2 linked regions of the Homo sapiens genome follow. The protein of the gene in region 2 interacts with the protein of the main gene of each other region in a pairwise test. Each region holds a gene or a part of one and is shown on either strand. Other genes may lie near its edges. The genes, in order: BLVRB and ANXA10.

Evidence for each region.
Region 1: the proteins of ANXA10 (region 2) and BLVRB interact in binary tests that used the Homo sapiens proteins (3 or more experiments, as listed by UniProt).

The regions. Positions count from the first base shown.
Region 1 is NC_000019.10:40,454,007-40,463,628, reverse strand, and holds part of BLVRB (flavin reductase (NADPH)), read left to right. Parts: intron 1-5,083; coding exon 5,084-5,248; intron 5,249-5,384; coding exon 5,385-5,474; intron 5,475-9,622. UniProt on the Homo sapiens protein: Enzyme that can both act as a NAD(P)H-dependent reductase and a S-nitroso-CoA-dependent nitrosyltransferase. Promotes fetal heme degradation during development.
Region 2 is NC_000004.12:168,086,659-168,096,964, forward strand, and holds the start of ANXA10 (annexin A10), read left to right. Parts: upstream 1-5,878; 5' UTR 5,879-6,042; coding exon 6,043-6,060; intron 6,061-6,078; exon of another isoform or gene 6,079-10,306.

The sequences.
Region 1 (9,622 bases), on a different chromosome or scaffold from region 2:
GAAAGGAAAGAAGGAAGGAAGAAAAGGAGGGAGGGATGGAGGGAGGGAGGGAGGGAAGGAAAGAAGGGAGGGAAGGAGGGAGGGAGGGAGGGAGGGAGGGAGAAGGGGCTTGGATTAACTGGAGTTCACAATGGTTCTGTAGGGCCAAGAGTCTTAACAGGCATGAACTCTGGTGCCAGCCTGCCCACATTCAAGTCACCAGCTCTGCGGCTTACAGCCTTTGTGACCAAATGCCTTGTCATCTGTGTACCTAGATATGTGTAAGATCATGACAAAACTGGTAGTACTTGCCCTAGGGCTCTTGGGATAATTAAATGAGATCTTATATAGGAGGTACTTAGACTAGCATTGAATTTTGCAGTCTCTGGATCAGACTTACTTAGGTAAAAATTCAACCTTCTCTACCTACTAGCTGTGTGATCCTGGCCCGGTTGCCTAAAATTGCCTCAGTTTCCCCATCAATGTGGACAGGATAATGATACCTACCTTGCAGGGTTGTTGCAACCTGATGCTTCTCAAACTGTGAGTTACAATGAGATCTGAAACATATGGTCACAACGTGTATCAACAATATAGGGTAACAAATGATGACATAGTATCAAAATGTATCACATGTTAAGTATTAGTTTTGTGAAACTCATTTTAATTATATATGTATGCGTTTGTGTACACCAGGTTAGGCAATGAAATTTTTTGTATTGATGGCTGATTTTTTTTTTTTTTTTTTTTTTTTTTTGAGACAAGAGTCTCACTCTGCCGCCCAGGCTGGAGTGCAGTGGCACAATCTTAGCTCACTGCAAGCTCCGCCTCCCGAGTTCAGCCATTCTCCTGCTTCAGCCTCCCAAGTAGCTGGGACTACAGGCGCCTGCCACCATGCCCAGCTAATTTTTTTTGTATTTTTAGTAAAGATGGGGTTTCACCATGTTAACCAGGATGGTCTCCATCTCCTGACCTCATGATCCGCCCGCCTCAGCCTCCCAAAGTGCTGGGATTACAGGCGTGAGCCACCACGCCCGGCCAATGGCTGAGATTTTCAAAAAGCTTAAAAAGAGGCCAGGCACCATGGCTCACGCCTGTAATCCCAGCACTTTGGGAGGCCAAGGTGGGCGGATCACAAGGTCAGGAGATCGAGACCACCCTGGCTAACACCGTGAAACCCCATCTCTACTAAAAATACAAAAAATTCGCCGGGTGTTGTGGTGCACACCTATAATCCCAGCTACTCTGGAGGCTGAGGTGGGAGAATCGCTTGAACCTGGGAGGCGGAGGTTGCAGTGAGCTGAGATTGCGCCACTGCACTCCAGCCTGGGCAAGAGAGTGAGACTTCATCTCAAAAAAAAAAAAAAAAAGAATGCCCATATTGGCCCATGCAAGCCCCTGCTGCTCCCCCATGTGTGAGGGCAGCACAGATCTTGTGTCATTCCCCTATGAAAGGTGGTCACATAGCACGGGGAGGCTGGTGCTGTGATCCTCACTTCAGAGATGAGGAAGCTGAGGTCCAATCACGGAAGAGGTTGCATGAGGTTCCTCAGCTGGTAAGTGGCAGAGCTGGAGTTTGGATCAAGGTCCCTGGGGCAGTAATGCCTGTGCTTTTGTGTTTACAAAGGTTCAGGGAGATGGCAGAAAACATGACACAGTCCCTGGACCCACAGGGTGCTTGGTTTGCTGCAGGTCAGCATAAAGAGGGCTGTGACAGAGGAAGTACAAGTTACTGGGGGGACCGGGTAAAGAGGGTAAAGGGTGTTCCAGGCAGAGGGCACAGCACGTGCAAAGTCCAGGAGGCAGGAAGCAGCACCATGCATTTGAGGAACTGAAAGAAGAGCAGTTGGGGCCGGGTGCAGTGGCTCATGCCTGTAATCCCAACACTTTGGGGGGCTGAGGCAGGTGGATCACACAGTCAGGAGTTCGAGACCAGCCTGGCTAACATCGTGAAACCCCATCTCTACTAAAAATACAAAAAAATTAGCCAGGCATGGTGGCAGGCGCCTGTAATCACAGCTACTCAGGAGGCTGAGGCAGGAGAATCGCTTGAACCCATGAGACGGAGGTTGCAGTGAGCCGAGACTGCACCACTGCACTCCAGACTGGGCAACAGAGCGAGACTCCGTCTCAGAAAAAAAAAAAAAAAAATGTGCTGTGGGTGAAGAGGGCAGAGGCTTCAGCAGAGCCTGGAGAGGAGAAGCCAGATCCCGAGGGGCCTGGAAGGCTGGCATGAGGAGCATGGGTTTTATCACAGGGCATTTCAGGCTTGCGGGAGGCAACTGAGCAGAGAGGCACTTAAATATTACTGTGGAGAACTCTGTCTGGCTGCTGTGTGGAATATGGATTGGAGAGGGCAGGACTGGGTCCAGGAGCCCAGGGAGGACCCAGGAAAGGGACCAGGAAGGAGACGTAGGCCTGGATCAGGCCAGGAGATAAAGTTGCAAAATGGTTACAAGGTGTAATAGGCCACGCTCGGTAGCTCATGCCTGTAATCCCAGCACTTTGGGAGGCCATGCCAGGCAGATTACTTGAGTCCAGGAGTTCGAGACCAGCCTGGCCAACATGCAAAACCCCATCTCTTTTTTTAATTTTTTTATTGTGTCTTTTTGGGTTTTTTGGTTTTTTATGTTTATTGTTGTTGTTGTTGTTTGTTTTGTTTTGTTTTGTTTTGTTTGAGACGGAGTTTCGCTCTTGTTGCCCAGGCTGGCGTGCAATGGCACAATCTCAGCTGACTGCAATCTCTACCTCCTGGGTTCAAGCGATTCTTCTGCCTCAGCCTCCCAAGTAGCTGGGATTACAGGCATGCACCACCATGCCTGGCTAATTTTGTATTTTTAGTAGAGGCGGGGTTTCCCTGTGTTGGTCAGGCTGGTCTTGGACTTCCAACTTCAGGTGATCCACCTGCCTTGGCCTCCCAAAGTGCTGGGATTACAGGCGTGAGCCATCGCGCCCAGCACCAGGTAACTCTTATTTCTGTGCCAGGTAGTAGCCTAAACTTTTTGTTAATTTAATTTAATTTAATTTAATTTAATTTATTTATTTATTTTTGAGACAGAGTCTTGTTCTGTAGCCCAGGCTGGAGTGCAGTGGTACAATCATAGCTCACTACAGCCTCAGCCACCTGAGTAGCTGAGACTACAGGTTGCGCCAGCACACCTGGCTAGATTTTTTTTATTTTTTTTGCAGAGACGGGGTTTCACTATGTTGCCCAGTCTGGTCTCAAACTCCTGGCCTCAAACAATCTTCCTGTCTTGGCCTCCCAAAGCACTGGGATTATAATAGGCATCAGCCCAGGAATTTGAGGTTACAGTGAGCTATGATTGGCGCCCCTGCACTCCAGCCTGGGCAACAGAGCAAGACCCTGTCTCTAAATATATATATATATATATATATATATATGTTGCTATTACAGTATACCCAAATGTTAACATCCTTTGCCAATGTTTAAAACAAAGGAAGAAATATGTTAGTTGTGAACTTTAAAATGTGTGTGTATGTGTGTGTGTGTTGAAGAGAAACAAAATTATCCAAAATTATTTTGGGAAGGAACATACTAAGACAATATTAAAAATCTTTAATGACCACTAAAGGAGGGCTGGGCTTCCCAGCAGTAAGGCTGGGCAGCAGGGGCTGGGACCAATCCCAGCACTGGTCAGTCTGTAGGCAACCCATGTCCCCCTCAGAACCTCAGTTTCTTCCAGGACCATGGATGGGAGACAGAGACCAGTGCAATGCCTGCATTAACCCTTTAGTTGTTAGAGGGTAGGGAAGTTGCTGGCTGGGTACAGTGGCTTACGCCTGTAATCCTAGCACTTTGGGAGGCCAAGGTGGGTGGATCACCTGAGGTTAGGAGTTCAAGACCAGCCTGGCCAACATGGTAAAACCCTATCTCTACTAGAAACACAAAAATTAGTTGGATGTGGTGGCATGCGCCTGTAGTCCCAGCTACTCGGGAGGCTGAGGCAAAAGAATCGCTTGAACTTGGGAGGCGGAGGTTGCAGTGAGCTGAGATCATGCCACTGTGCTCCAGCCTGGGCAACAGAGGGAGACTCTATCTCAAAAAAAATAATAATGATAGCCAGGTGTGGTGGCACGTGCCTGAACCCGGGAGGCGGAGGTTGCAGTGAGCCGAGATTGTGCCACTGCACTCTAGCCTGGGTTACAGAGTGAGATTCCGTCTCAAAAAATAATAATAATAATAAATAGAAGGTAAGGAATTTACAGGGTGTGGTGCTTGGAGGCTTCAGTTCAGATTATTTATGAATTATCATGAAGGTATGGTCTTTTTTTTTTTTTTTTTTTTTTTTTTTTTTTTTTTTGAGATAGAGTCTCGCTTTGTCATCCAGGCTGGAGTGCACTGGTGCAATCTCTGCTCACTGCAACCTCCGCCTGTCGGGTCAAGTGATTCTTTTGCCTCAGCTTCCCAAGTACTTGGGATTACAGGTATGTGCCACCATGCCTGGCTAATTTTGTATTTTTAGTGGCAATGGGGTTTCATCATGTTGTCCAGGCTGGTCTCAAACTCCTGACCTCAGGTGATCTGCCCGCCTCAGCCTCCCAAAGTGTTGAGATTACAGGCGTGAGCCACCATGCCTGGCCAAGGTATGGTCTATTTTAATAATCAGCCCAATACTAAGCATCAACTGTAGGTATGCCAGCAAAAATGTTTGAAGGCCACGGCGCAGTGGCTCATGGGGAGGCTGAGGCAGGCAGATCACCTGAGCCCAGGAGTTCAAGACCAGCCTGGGCAACATGGCAAAACCCCTTCTCTACAAAAGATTGCAAAATTAGCTGGGTGTGGTGGTGCACACTGTGGTCCCAGCTACTTGGGGTGCTGAGATGGGAGGATCAGTTGAACCCCGGAGGTTGAGGCTGCAGTGAGCTGTGACTGCACCATTGCACAGCAGCCTGGGCAAGTGAGCAAGACCCTGTCTCAAAAACAAAACAAACAAAAAGAAAAAACCAAAAATGTTTGAAGACCACTTCCCCAGAACAGAGGAGGGGATGGATTTGAGAGTTCATGGTGGCTTCTAGGACCCAGCTCCTGGAGCCCAAGAGTGCCAGCCCACTGACCAGGCTCTCTGCTCCTCTTTGCCCACAGGTTACGAAGTGACAGTGCTGGTGCGGGACTCCTCCAGGCTGCCATCAGAGGGGCCCCGGCCGGCCCACGTGGTAGTGGGAGATGTTCTGCAGGCAGCCGATGTGGACAAGACCGTGGCTGGGCAGGACGCTGTCATCGTGCTGCTGGGCACCCGCAATGACCTCAGTACTGAGCCCCCCCTCTGCCCACGGCCCTCCCCTACACCTCGGCCCCCAGCGCCACCCCCGCCCCCGGCCCCGCCCCTGCCACCCCTGCCGCCGCCGCCGCCCACCAGTGACAGCCACTCTCTGTCCCCTCTAAGGTCCCACGACAGTGATGTCCGAGGGCGCCCGGAACATTGTGGCAGCCATGAAGGCTCATGGTGTGGACAAGGTCGTGGCCTGCACCTCGGGTGGGTGGTGGGATCATGGAGGTGGGGCTGAACTGGGGGGTACTGGGGAGGCAGCCCAGGGGCCTCTGAAAGGTGACGCTGAAGCCATTCCATGTTACTGTGCATTTACTGAACACCAGCTGTGTGCCTGAACCTTACTGGGTGATGCTGGGGACACAGTGGTGACCTGTACAGCCCTGGGCCCTGCTCACACAAGGCTCACAGAGAGAGGTGGTAAACAGATCCATGATCAAACTGACATCCAGATCATCGGAGCTGGGATCGGGAGGCAGGCAGAGGGGATAGGGCCACAATGGGAGAAACTACAGGACTATGGGAGCCCAGAGGAGGCGTCCGACTTAGGCTGAGAGAGGTCAGGGTAGGCCTCCCAGAGGAAGTGATAGAGCTGTGGATAGACACTAGGTCTCTGCCCTCACAGAGCTCCCGATTATGGGGACACAGACATTAAGCAAATAGTTGCCCTGTATAATCATTTATTTATTTATTTATTTATTTATAGTTATTTTGAGGTTTGTTTGAGATAGAGTCTTGCTCTGATGCCCAGGCTGGAGTGCAGTGGCGTGATCTTGGCTCCCTGCAACCTCCGCCTCCCGGAGGTGGTTCTCCTGCCTCAAGTGATTCTCCTGCCTCTGCCTCCCAGGTAGCTGGGACTACAGGTGTGCACCACCATGCCCAGCTAATTTTTGTATTTTTAGTAGAGACAGGGTTTCGCCATGTTGGCCAGGCTAGTCTCGAACTCCTGACCTCAAGTGTGTTTCATGACACAAATTGCCTCCCTGGAAAGGGAAGTGGCATGAGGGAGGGCTGCCTGATGATTGTAATTACACTCCAGGCAGAGGACAAAGCAAGCAAAGAGGCCTGGAGGCCAGACCTAGTTGGAGGGTAGGAAGCAAAATCATTTATGGCTTTTTTCCTCAAGCTCTGAAATGGAAAAGTAATACACGAGTAAACTTGCGATTTCAGAATGGTTCACTTTTTTTTTTTTTTTTTGAGACTTTCTGTCACCCAGGCTGGAGTGCAGTGGTGCAACCATGGCTCACTGCAGCCTCAGTCTGGGTTCAAGTGATCCTCCCCACTGCAGCCTCCCAAGCGGCTGGGACTACAGGCATGCACCACCACACCTGGCTAATTTTTTGATATTTTTGTAGAGACAAGGTCTTACTTTTGTTCGCAGATTGGAATGGTCTGCTGTTAATTTTAGTTTTGTTTTTTTCTCCCATGTCTTTTTTTCTTTGAGATGAAGTCTGACTCCATTGCCCAGGCTGGAGTGCAGTGGCGTGGTATCAGCTCACTGCAACCGCCACTCCACCTCCCGGGTTCATGGTGCCTGGGACCAAGATCGTGGCCCACAGTGATTCTCCTGCCCCAGCCTCCTGAGTAGCTGGGATTACCGGCGCCTGCCACCATGCCCTGCTAATTTTTGTATTTTTGGTAGAGACAAGGTTTTGCCATGTTGGCCAGGCTGATGTTGAACTCCTGGCCTCAAGCAGTCCTCCCACCTCAGCCTTCCAAAGTGCTGAGATTACAGGTATAAGCCACCACGTCCAGACTCTCCCATGTCTTAAAAACCAATTTAACTGGTTAAGTTTTGCTTCCATGAAAAAGACAAACCTGTAAAATTGATTTAATTTGCTTTCTTTTTTCTCATTTTTTTTTGTTTAGATTGTTTTCTAAATATTAAAGTCTTAGGTGTGCCAGGATTTTTTTTTTCATTAAAAAAAAAACAAACATAGAGACAAGGTCTCGCTCTGTCACCCAGGCTGGAGTGCAGTGGCCTGATCATAGCTCATTGTACCCTTGAACCCCTGGGCTCAAGGAATCCCCTCACTTTAGCCCCTCAAATAGCTGGGGCAACAGGTATGAGCCATTGAGTCCAGCTTAACTTTTTATCTGGAAATGATCTTAAACTTACAGAAAAATTGAAAGGACACCAGTACACCTACCGTCCTCTGTTCACAGACACACAATGTTTTTTTTCTGACCCATTTGAAGTTAGCTTACATACATCATGGCTGCTTACTTCAATGTGTAGGTCCTCAATATACTTTTTAACTTTTTATTATAAAAATTTTTAAACAGAAAAGTTAATAGTCGTGTGAACAACCATATTCCTTTTCTTTTTTTATTTTTAAGTTTGTAGCTATCTATCTATTTATTTATTTATTTTGAGACCGGGTTATAAGGCTGGCTAATTTTTGTATTTTTGGTAGAGATAGAGTTTCGCCATGTTGCCCAGGCTGGTCCCGAACTCCCGGACTCAAGCGATCCACCAGCCTCAGCCTCCCAAAGTGCTGGGATTACACCTGAGCCACTGCACCTGGCCAACAGCCATATTCCTGATTTTAAAATTGTGATTGTGTTTTGTAATTGGTTTATCTATGCACATACACATACACAAATAGATTTTGTTTTTGTTCTCCTAAACTATTTGGGTTTTTTGTTTGTTTGTTTTTATTTGAGACAGAGTCTCATTCTGTCACCCAGGCCGGAATACAGTGGCGTGATCTTGGCTCACTGCAACATCCACCTCCTGGGTTCAAGGGATTCTCCTGCCTCAGCCTCCTGAGTAGCTGGGATTACAGGTGCCTGCCACCACATCTGGTTAATTTTGTGTGTGTGTATTTTTAGTATAGATGGGGTTTCACCATATTGGGCAGGCTGGTCTGACCTCAAGTGATCTGGCCTCCCAAAGTGCTGGATTACAGGCATGAGCCACTGCGCCCAGACTTCCTAAACTATTTGAAATGGAGTTGCACACCCACAGACACCTTCGGCAAGTCCCAAGAAAAAGGACTTTTCTCTTCCAGCACCACAGTGCTATTGTCACACTTTAATTATCTTCCAGCCTCTAATTATTAGAGTTTAATCTTCCCTCCATATTCAAATGTCAAGGTAAAAGATTAGAAAGATTTTTGTCATCTAAGGAGCTTGGAGTTTATCCATTAGGGCTTGGGGAGGATTGTTTTTTATGGAGGCATCTGAGAGGATTAGAAAGAAACCCAGAGTAAGGCCAGGCACAGTGGCTCACGCCTGTAATCCTAGCACTTTGAGAGGCCAAGGTGGGCGGATTGCTTGCGTCCAGGAGTGCAGGACCAGTCTGGGCAACACAGCAAAACTCCATCTCTACAAAAAAAAAATACAAAAAATTAGCTGGGTGTGGTGGTACACACCTGTGGTCCCCAATACTTGGGAAGCTTAGGTAGGAGGATCCTTTGAGCCTAGAAGGCAGAGGTTGCAGTGAGCCGTGATGGCACCACTGCACTCCAGCCTTGGCTGCAGAGCAAGACCCTGTCTCAAAACACAACAAAACAGCCGGGTGCTGTGGCTCACGCCTGTAATCCCAGCACTTTGGGAGGCCAAGGTGGGTGGATCACGAGGTCAGGAGATTGAGACCATCCTGGCTAACACAGTGAAACACCGTCTCTACTAAAAATACAAAAAATTAGCCAGGCGTGGCGGCGGGTGCCTATAGTCCCAGCTACTCGGGAGGCTGAGGCAGGAGAATGGCGTAAACCCGGGAGGAGGAGCTTGCAGTGAGCTGAGATCGTGCCACTGCACTCCAGCCTGGGTGACAGAGCGAGACTGCCTCAAAAAAAAAAAGAAAAAAGAAACTAGGGGTAAGTTAGAGACTGGATTTGAGATTGTGAACTGGAGACTGGAGGCTGCAGACAAAAACCCACTTCACACTCTGCACCGCAGTTTTCTCATCTGTAAAGAGGAAATCCTAGACCAGGCGCAGTGGCTCACGCTGTAATCCCAGCACTTTAGGAGGCTAAGGCAGGTGGATCGCTTGAGGTCAGGAGTTCGAGACCAGCCTGGCCAACATGGTGAAACCCCGTCTCTACCAAAAATACAAAAACTAGCCAGGTGTGGTGGCACACGCCTGTAATCCCAGCTACTCAGGAGGCTTAGGCAGGAGAATCACTTGAAACTTGTAGGTGGAGGTTGCAGTGAGAATGATGTCATCATAGCTCGCTACCGCCTCCAACTCCTAGGCTCAAGGGATCCTCCTGAGTAGCTGAGACCACAGGCATGTGCCACCATGCCCATCTAATTTTTAAAATTTTTTTGTTGCGACAGAGTCTGGCTTTGTTGCCCAGGCTGGTCTCTGTGACACACCTTTTTATAACCACTAACATTACTCAAAC
Region 2 (10,306 bases):
AAGAAATGATGCAAAATATTCAATTGCTAAATAAGAACTTATTTTACATATTTAGATGAATTAAGTGGACATTGAATTGCTATGGTATTGAGATCACATTGGATGCTTTGAGAACAGTAAAAAATAACTGTGACTATTTAAACTTGAATGAAATTATTTTATATGACATTGGTAAAAAAGTAGAAGAGGTACATAGTTTTTCCAAATTCTTTGGGGAATGTTGAGACAAAACAATTTGGAGATCATTGTCTAATTGGAAAAAAAATGTTCTATGTCTAGCCTTCTTCTTATGATTGTTGTTTTAGGCAATTTGCAGTACTCAAAAAAGGCAGTGTCAATGTCAACCATACATAAATATATATAAACATATTAAACAACTTTTGTTAATTATACGTTTTTCATCATGTATAAAATAAAAATTTCAAATCATTAGTTAATGTACATAAGCACCATAAAGCAGAGATTTTTGCCTATCTTGTTTCATGAAGTATCCCAAATACCTATTACACTGTCAGAAACCTTTTAGTTGCCTAATAAATATTTGCTAATAAATTGAATGAATGATAAAATGTGACTCCAAGAAGGATTGAATGCTTACTTAATATGGCACAGTAGACAGTAATTCAAATTTTTCTAGATGCTGACACCAGCAACATAGAAGAATAGGAGGATTCTAACTATCCCTCCTCCCACAGACACACCAAATTAACATCTACACATGAAACAATTATTTCCAAGAGAATGACAGAATTTAGTTGAAAGACTCCTACACACTGGAGAATTGAGAAAATACACACATCAAAATGAGTAGGAAAGGCAGATATAAACCACCAAGCCCACCCTGAGCACTGTGCCTTACGATCAGGAAGAAATCCCCAACTCCTAGCTGCATCTAGAGGGATGAAGGATTTGTACCACACATATCACTATGTTTATAATCTCTACCAGACAGCTTGTCTATTAAATTACCTTGCTTGAGGAGCAGCAGGAAAAGGATATCAGAGGATTTCCTTCAAGCAAAAAGAACAAAGAGGAGTTTTAATCCACACAACTATTCCCAGTATCTGTATACCTCAGATCAATCCAGCTTTCAACTTCTAGAAAGAGTTTGGATACACAGATTTCCAGAAGCTCCCTGTGATCCTGGCCTCAAGGATAAACCTCCTCAACCCTAAATAAGAGAGGCAGCAATTTCTGTGCCTTTGTCCTTACGTTTCTCTAGTGATAAATCCCTGCAATCTTTCATTGGAAGGAGGACGGGCTACCTTGCTGTGCTGAACTGGAAGCTCAATGGATACCTACTGAATAAATCCAAGGAGATCCACATCAATGCATCATAAATCAGACTGTCAAAAATTATGGACAAAGAGAGGATACTGAAAGGACAAGGGGAAAGCAAATCATTACATATGAGGGAGATTTCATAAGACTATCAATGGGTTTTTCAGCAATAATCTTGTAGGTCAGAGGGGACTGAGATAATATAGTCAAAAAGCTAGAAGAAAAACAACTGTTAACCAAGAATATTATACCCAGCAATACTATTTTTCAAAACTGAAAAAGAGATAAAACCTTTCTTAAACAAACAGAAATTGAGGCACTTTATCACTGCTAGTTCTGCCTTACAACAAATGCTGAAAGCATTCCTTCAACATAAAGGAAAAGGTCACTAAATAGCAATAGGAAAATATATAAAAATATTTTAAAAAACTCACTGGTAAAAGCGTACACAGAAAGAAGTAAAAGACATTTACACATGAAAGGAAGAAATGAAATTTTATCTGTATGCCAATGACATAATCTTATACATAGAAAATCCTATCAACTCCACTGAATAACTGTTAGAACTGATTTTAAAAATTCAGTAGGGGTGCAGGTTACAAAGTCATTACGCAAAATCAATGGTGTTTCTATATACTAACAACAAACTATCCATAAAACAGACTAAGAAAACAATCTTATTTAAAATTGTATCACGAAAAAATAAAATACTTAGGAGTAAATTTAACCAAGCAGGTAAAATATCTGTACATTAAAAACTACAAAACATTGATGAAAAACTGAAGACAACACAAATAAGTGAAAATATATTTTATATTCATGGACTGAAGGATTAATACTGTTAAAGTAGCCATACCACTCAAGGCAATCTACAAACTTAATACAATTCCTATCAAAATTCTGATGTGATTTTTCACAGAAAAAGGCAAAACAATTTTAAAATTTGCATGGAATCAGAAGAGACCCCAGATAGCCAAAGAAATCTTGAGCAAAAAAAAGAGCAAAGCTGGAGGCATCACACTATCTTATATCAAAATGTATTATGAATCAATCATAATCAAAACAGCATGGAAGTGGAATTAAAACAGACACACTGACCAATGGAACCAATTAGAAAGCCCAGAAGTAAGCCCAAGTATTTATGATCAATTGATTTTTTGGCAAAGGTGTCAAGAACACACAATGATAAAAAGACAGTCTATTCAATAAATGTTGTTGGGAAAAATAGGATATCCACATGCAGAAGAATAAAATTGGACTATTAACTTACACCCTACAGAAAAATTAACTGAAAATGGATTAAAGACTTAACGTAAGACCTGAAACTGTTTAAAACTGCTAGAAGAAAACATAGGGGGAAGTCCATGTCATTGACTTCAGCAATTATTTCTTGGATAGGACCCCAAAAGCATGGAAAAGAAAATCAAAATTAGACAAATAGGATGGCATCAAACCAAAATGCTTCTGCACAGCAAAGAAAACAATCAAGAGTTACAAAACAATCCGTGTACCGGGAGAAAATATTTGCAAACCACACATCTGTTAAGGTGCTAATATGAAAAATATCTAAGAGACTCAAACAACTCAATAACAAGAAAACAAGCAACCTGATTTAAAAATGGGCCAAGGACCCAAAGAGAGAGTCCTCAAAATAAAACATGCTATTAGACAAAGGATATGTTTAAAAATGTTCGGCATCTTTAATCATGAGGGATATGAAAATTAAAGCTGCAATGAGATATCACCTCCCACATGTTAGAATGGCAATTATCAAGAAGACAAAAGATAAGTGTTGGTGAGGTTGTGCAGAAAAAGGATACCTGGTGTTCTGTTCATGGGAATGTAAATTAGTATAGCCATTTTTAAAAACAGTATGGAGATTCCTCAAAAAACAAAACATGGAATTACCATATGATCCACAATCTCACTTCTGGATATATATCCGTAAAGATTGAGATCAGTATATCAAGGAAATGTCTGCACTCCCATGTTCATTCTGGCATTGTCTACAAAAGCAAAGATATGGCAACAACCTAAGTATCCATCAATGGATAAATGGATACAGAAAATGTAGTATACATAAAATAGAATAATATACATGCTTTAAAAAGAAGGAAATTCTGCCATGTGCAACAATATGGATGAAACTAGAGGACATTGTGGTAAGTCACATTTCAAACGCTAATTCATCTGTGAAGCATTCTTCATTTACTTGCTCCCTAAGTAACTTGCCTCTTGAGGAATTGTTCAAAATATTTTTTGCAACTTGCTTATGGCTCTTACCATTTATCATCTTGTATTCTGTTAATTTTTAAAACCTACTAAACTGTAAATCCCTTTGAATCAAGAAACATGCCTTTTCATTTTCTTCTTAAGTTGCTTTGTTTCATTCCTTGAGTATCTATGTAACATTGAGATTGAGGTTACAGGTTCTGTCATTGGACTGCCTAGGTTCAAATTTCACTCTCCTACTTCAAGAGTGAGATTTTAGGCAACATTCTTGACTACAGAGTAATTCCATTTCCTCTCTACTATCTATCTATGCTGTGGATAAAATATGGGCAATAACAGTACCAAGCTCATAGAGTTGTTGTAAGAATTAATTTATACAAGTATATTGACTTGAAACAATGTTTAGAATAGAGGAAAATCCTTATTATTGATAACATTTATTACTGTACAGGTTGTAGATAATCAAATGATATTTAAGTATGAGTAAATAAGTTACAACCAAACATTTTAAAATTTTCATCAGGGAAATTTTCATAAACATAAAATAGAATTATATTAAATAATTAACTACCATCTTTCCCAATAGTTTTCAAGATTTTGCCACACTGGTATCAAAAGGTGTCTCATGACCCTCTTTTCTATGGAATATTATAAGCCAAATACCAGATATCATAATTTCCCTTAAGGACATGTTTTTTAAAAGCTAAATCACAAAATAATGATGAATAAAATTATACATTAAGTACCTATTATCTGGGAGAAAATTAGGGAATATTATCAAATCTCTTTTCTCTGAATTATCTAATAATCTTAGGGAAAGGATTTTGGTCTCAAATATTTTGACAAATTTTGTTCATATTCACATATTTAGTCTCTAATAAAAGCCATAAGACCTGCAACTTACTAAAATAATCATAAAAAATCATTGTAGTTGAAAACTCTTCTATTGTTTCTAATTAAAAAACAATTTTAGTTGAAAATTCTTCTTTTGTTTCTAATTCTGAATCCTATAGTTTTAATAAGTATATCTATTATTTTATAATTGCTATATGCTGTCTACATATAGCAATTATACAATATAAATTATACAATTATAGCAATTATACAATATAAATTATACAATTTTATAATTGCTATATGCTGTCTACATAGCAAAAACACAAGACCCTGATTCATACACAGACACATACACATACATAGTAGGACCTACTAGATTTTAATGTTTTTGAGCCAAGCAGCATGGTTCCATATATCTCTCATAGTACCAGGTATACTGGTAAGGTAATCAGATAATATTATAAATTGAATGCTGAAGAATATATATATATAGTTGCTCATTATATATATATATATTTGTGTTTGTGTGTGTGTGTGTGTGTGTATTACATAAATACATACTGCTTCATGGCTTTTACTCATATTTTAACATCAGAATTATTTTGGGTAGTTCTAGACCTATGGATGCTGATCAGTTGACACTTGTCTTGTTAGTATTTGGTTCTTTCAATAAAGGATTATTTGCTCCTAATTCTTATTCAAAGTATTTTAAAATTTTTATAAATGAACACTATATTGTTCAATAAATAGCAAGTAGCAGTAAAATAATATAATACAGATTCATTTTGTTATTTTTGGAATCATATATGAATGTATCTAGATAGTTTCCAACACTATATTGAACTTTACAGGTTTTTCTAAAATTTATTTCCTTAAAATGCAATAGTTAATATTAAAATTACATATATATAAATATAGGAAAATTAAGTGCAAAAATGATGGTGAATATATTTCTCCAAAGACTTTTATTGGTGGATAATGAATTCTTTTCTAAATATATTTAAAATAATTTTTTTTTAATTTGTGTATTTTTAGTAGAGACGGGGTTTCGCCATGTTGGGCAGCCTGGTCTCGAATTCCTGACCTCAAGTGATCTGCCTGCCTTAGCCTCCCAAAGTGCTGGGATTAGAGGCATGAGCCACCAGGCCCAGCCCCTAAATACATTATTTTTTAATATAAGAGCAGATAAACAGTAGTTGAAATATTCTTTTAAAATTGTATGGATACACATAGAACCTAGCAATTTAAGATAGGAAACTAGGGCTGGAGCACCTGAAAGAGTTTCCATGTTAACAACAATTAAGCAGAAAATAAATGATTAACTTTATGGGTAATCAACTTAGCTTTCCATAAGTCATCAGCTTTTTCAAAAGATTACATTTCTTTCATTAGTTGGCTACTTTATGTGTCTTAAATCAACATACAACTGGGGATTAGGTTAATGGTTCTACTTATTTTGTGCAATAATTCTGCCTACTCACCTATGACTGATAACTAAGTATAAATACAGTATCTCAAGTCATGCTGTATCCAGATTTGCTTTTACATTTTCTTGCCTGAGTCTGAGGTGAACAGTGAACATATTTACATTTGATTTAACAGTGAACCTTAATTCTTTCTGGCTTCACAGTGAAACAAGTTTATGCAATCGATCAAATATTTTCATCCCTGAGGTTAACAATTACCATCAAAATGTTTTGTGGAGACTATGTGAGTATAATGCTTATTTCTGTAAAGCTTTTCACTCTTTTGAAACTTGATTTATAAAATTTCATTTGTGTTTTTTGACGTTTTTAACAGAAAATGTTGTTCTAATTTGTTTTTATTCTTACTACTTTCTTACTATTTTATGCCCATTTTTTGAAAGAAACATTTATAGAATATTTAAATTTTATTTCTGGGATTATTAAACATTACTATGATAACAAGATTTTTTTAATGCAATTATTTGCTATGCTTCTGAAGCAAATAAAGAAAACTGAAGATTAAAGATTTGGATTTGAGCATACCTAAGAATCCATTTAATTAGTGGGTCTTCAATATAACTATTAAACAGAGTTAATATTATGAAATCTTAAATCCATGCTAATTTTGAAACAACGTATTATCCCACAGAGGCAAGTTACTTTCATATGTAATTTGATTCAGAATTCTAACTGAAGTTATCATAAGATTTTTTATCTCGATATTTACTTCTATCTATAAAAAATTAAAATAATTTTGACTATTAATTTTATTTTAAATCCATGCTTTCTGTAAAAGATAGCTTATTTTTGAATAATTTTCTGTTGAATAGAAGCAATGTATAACAAGATTTAGTCTTTTTTTTGGCCTTGTCTGAATCATTTTAGTCCAACTGCTCTAATAGTCATTCACTTTTTAAAAAGCCAACATGAACATTAAGTTGTCTGAATATGCTTTATATGAAAAGGTCTCCATTTCACATGGTCTTGAAAATTATATACAAATGTGAATTTATGCCTTGTGGTCTTAGAAATTATATACAAGTATATGTGTGTTAATGATGATTCTTTACAAATCTATACTATAAAAAAACTTTCAGGAGACTGAGGCAAGAGAATGGCGTGAACCCGGGAGGCGGAGCTTGCAGTGAGCCGAGATCGCGCCACTGCACTCCAGCCTGGGCGACAGAGCGAGACTCCATCTCAAAAAACAAAAAACAACTTTCTGGGAACTTTTATGCAAAAAAATTATAACATAATTATTTTGTTAAACTTTGGCACACAAAACATTGTTTACTCATACAAAGTAATCAATGCAGGAAAATTTTACTTATATATTGTGTTTCTTAAGATAAATACTGAATTAGGACTTAAAAGGCAGCTATTTTCCATCACTGTTAGTTTAACAATCTTAATTTCATCTTAAGATTTCAAGATCTCATTTTGCAGTTGAAAGTTACCATTATTGTTTTATTAATTGTAAGGTGGTTATATTTCACTACAGAGAAAAAAAGGTATCAAGTAATTAGGCCAGCATGGTAAATGATTAAATTTGCAAATGCCTATTGTTTTCTCTCTCTGTTCATTTGAGTATAGTTATTTGGGAGTAATTACTATTATATTCTATGCATTGTGTGGTCTAATGTTACTATTTATATGCCCATTTTTCAAAAGAAACATATTTTATAGAATATTTAAATTATATTTCTGGGATTATTAAACATTACCAGGCTAACAAGATTTTTTTTAAATGCAATTATTTGCTATGCTTCTGAAGCAAATAAAGAAAACTGAAGATTAAAGATTTGGATTTGAGCATACCTAAGAATCCATTTTAAGTACTTTTGATTAGCTATTTTAGAGATGAATGTTATGTTTTATGTATAATCTCAGCAAGCCTGGATGGTAAAATGGTTTTACATAATCAATATCAGTATAGTTTAAAGTAATTTTCTATCTTAAGGTATATGACCCCAGTGGTCAGAATTTAGTGCTAAAAAGGCCAATATTTGAGGCCAAGCTTATCTCTTTAATCGGATGTTCTCAAGCAAGAGACTGGCTCTTCTGTTGACAAGTAATTTCTTATTTTATAATGTGGGTAGTAATTGACTGAGTTGTTTGTTAAAGATATGTCCCTAGATCCTCCTTATTTAGCAGTCCTGATGCAGTATATATAACATCTGAACTTATACACTTGATATAAAAGGGTTACCATTTTTGAGAACCACAGAGATAGGTAGTTCATTACTCTCAAAGTATAGAAAATTTAAATATACTTCAAGCAAGAGACAAGAATCATGGAAAAATGGTTACATTTCTGTAGGAGATAAACATACATAATATGTTAAAATTATTTTCTATATTTCTGGAGTTAGGCGGGCCCCAGTGATTAAGGTAGTTTAAGTGTGCTTGTTACATTAAGAAGGAAATTTATCTTTGGTGCACTAGTGTATTTTACTTATGTGCTTGACTGTAAGACCATCTTTCAAAAGCAAGGTTTAATTAAGAGATTATTGCAAGCCTGAGTTTTGATATATTAGTCAGATATAAATCACATCATAGGAAGATATTATTATAATATTATAATAGCTCTCTTAGAATGGAGGAAATTTTACTATACAGTGTACTTGCCCAAGTCAGGATCTAAACCCAGGTATCTCTACATCCCTAGAGCTCAAATTCTTTTTATTAATATATAATGTCTCTTTAGAATACACCTGCCTCTTTAGAATACAATTTTCTTGTAAAAATTGTTCGCTGATTTTGTCCTGTTTTGTCATCAGCTGATCCCCCTTGTTCATACAGTAGCATCTTATTTACTATAGATTCATTTCTTAGATGATACCCTTCCTTTTGACCTCTAATAGGATTAGAGTTAACTTTAATCCTATTCCCTTTTCTACCCTTTTGACACCTTTTCCTACTTCTATAATATTTATTGACTGACAGAAAATGTTAATCATAGCAGTATGAAAAGTAGGATACATGTTGATATCATATTTCTTACCTAAAATAGCATTATGTATTATACAAACATATAGAAATTATTATAATAATTTACTGTCTATATACATCATCCATACCTTGTTTAATTTAATCTTCACAGCAAATTGTCCTATAAGAATACCATTTAACATGCAAAGGTTTGAAGTTCTTTTGGAGGTACTAGATATTCTACCCAAATGTTTTATACATATTATTTTTGTGTTTGCAAACTTCTAGGACAGTATTATCATCCCCTTTTTCCAGATGAAAATACTAAGGTTCAGAAAAATTAAATACTTTTCCCAGGAGTTAAAAGCCAGTAGGTGACAGATACAGAGGATTCTGTGTAACTCCAAAATCATTTCTACCACACTGAGAGAAAAAAATGCCTAGGTATGATTATTTTTTGTGACCCCAATTAAATGAGAAAAACTTAGCAGCGGTATCTTTACAAAGATGCTTTGACTCATGAGTTTGCCTCAGAATAGCTCAAGAGCACGAAAGTCAGGCAACAGCATGTTAGGCAGTGTCTACTATGGGCAATGAGACATACAGCATTTTAGCCTAACTAGAATAAAAATAAATGCATTGGTTTTTAGCAGTGGATTACATGTAGTGAAGGAAAAGCACTCCATAAATCAGAAATGAATTCAGGGCATATTACCTAGGAGTGATTGCAGACTGACAAGACATCTCATGGGAGGAGAGGCTGTTGATAAGGCAAGATTATTTTCAAGACTGTCTTTTCCTATAGAAAGTAATTCCCAGGACAAAAACTTCCATCCAAGAAATCTGACTTTGATTGTTTATCTGCAGTATGACTTACTGAGCAAATATTATTAAAAGGTTATTCATACTTCAGATTGCTTTTCACTATCACAAGACTACATTGTCTGAACTTTACACACTTTGATTCAACAAAAGTTTTGAATCATGCTGTTATGGCTTCAACTTTTACTGAAACTTCTGTAGAACTAATAAGAGTTGGATTGGAAAAATTAAATTTAACTTTTTCCTTGAACTGGCATGCATGCTTGTTGTAAATTTTTAAAAATATACCATTATAACAACCATAGATTGGTTTTAATCTAGGGGCTGGGCAAACATCACTGTAGCGTAGTGGCTAAAGATACACTTAAATCTAGCCTTTCTGCATAGGATCCATGTGACTGAGCACTACTTGCTGAATCTTTCTGCACCTCAATTTTTTTTAACCTGTTAAGTGTGATAACAGCACCTATCTTATAAGGGTCTCTTGAGAATTGTTTGGCATATAAAGCACCAAGAAGAGTATCTGGAGCATAGAAGCATCCCAAAAAGATGAGCTATTATTCACAGTACCAGTGCCAAAGCTTGAATCCGACTCTGTCTAATTCAAAAGCCCTGGCCTTCAGCTGCCCAATGCACTGCTTCTAGAGGGGAGGTTAAGTTTGTATCCATTACTAATACAAATGCATATATATATATATATATGTATGTATATGTATATACAATACATACATAAGCAT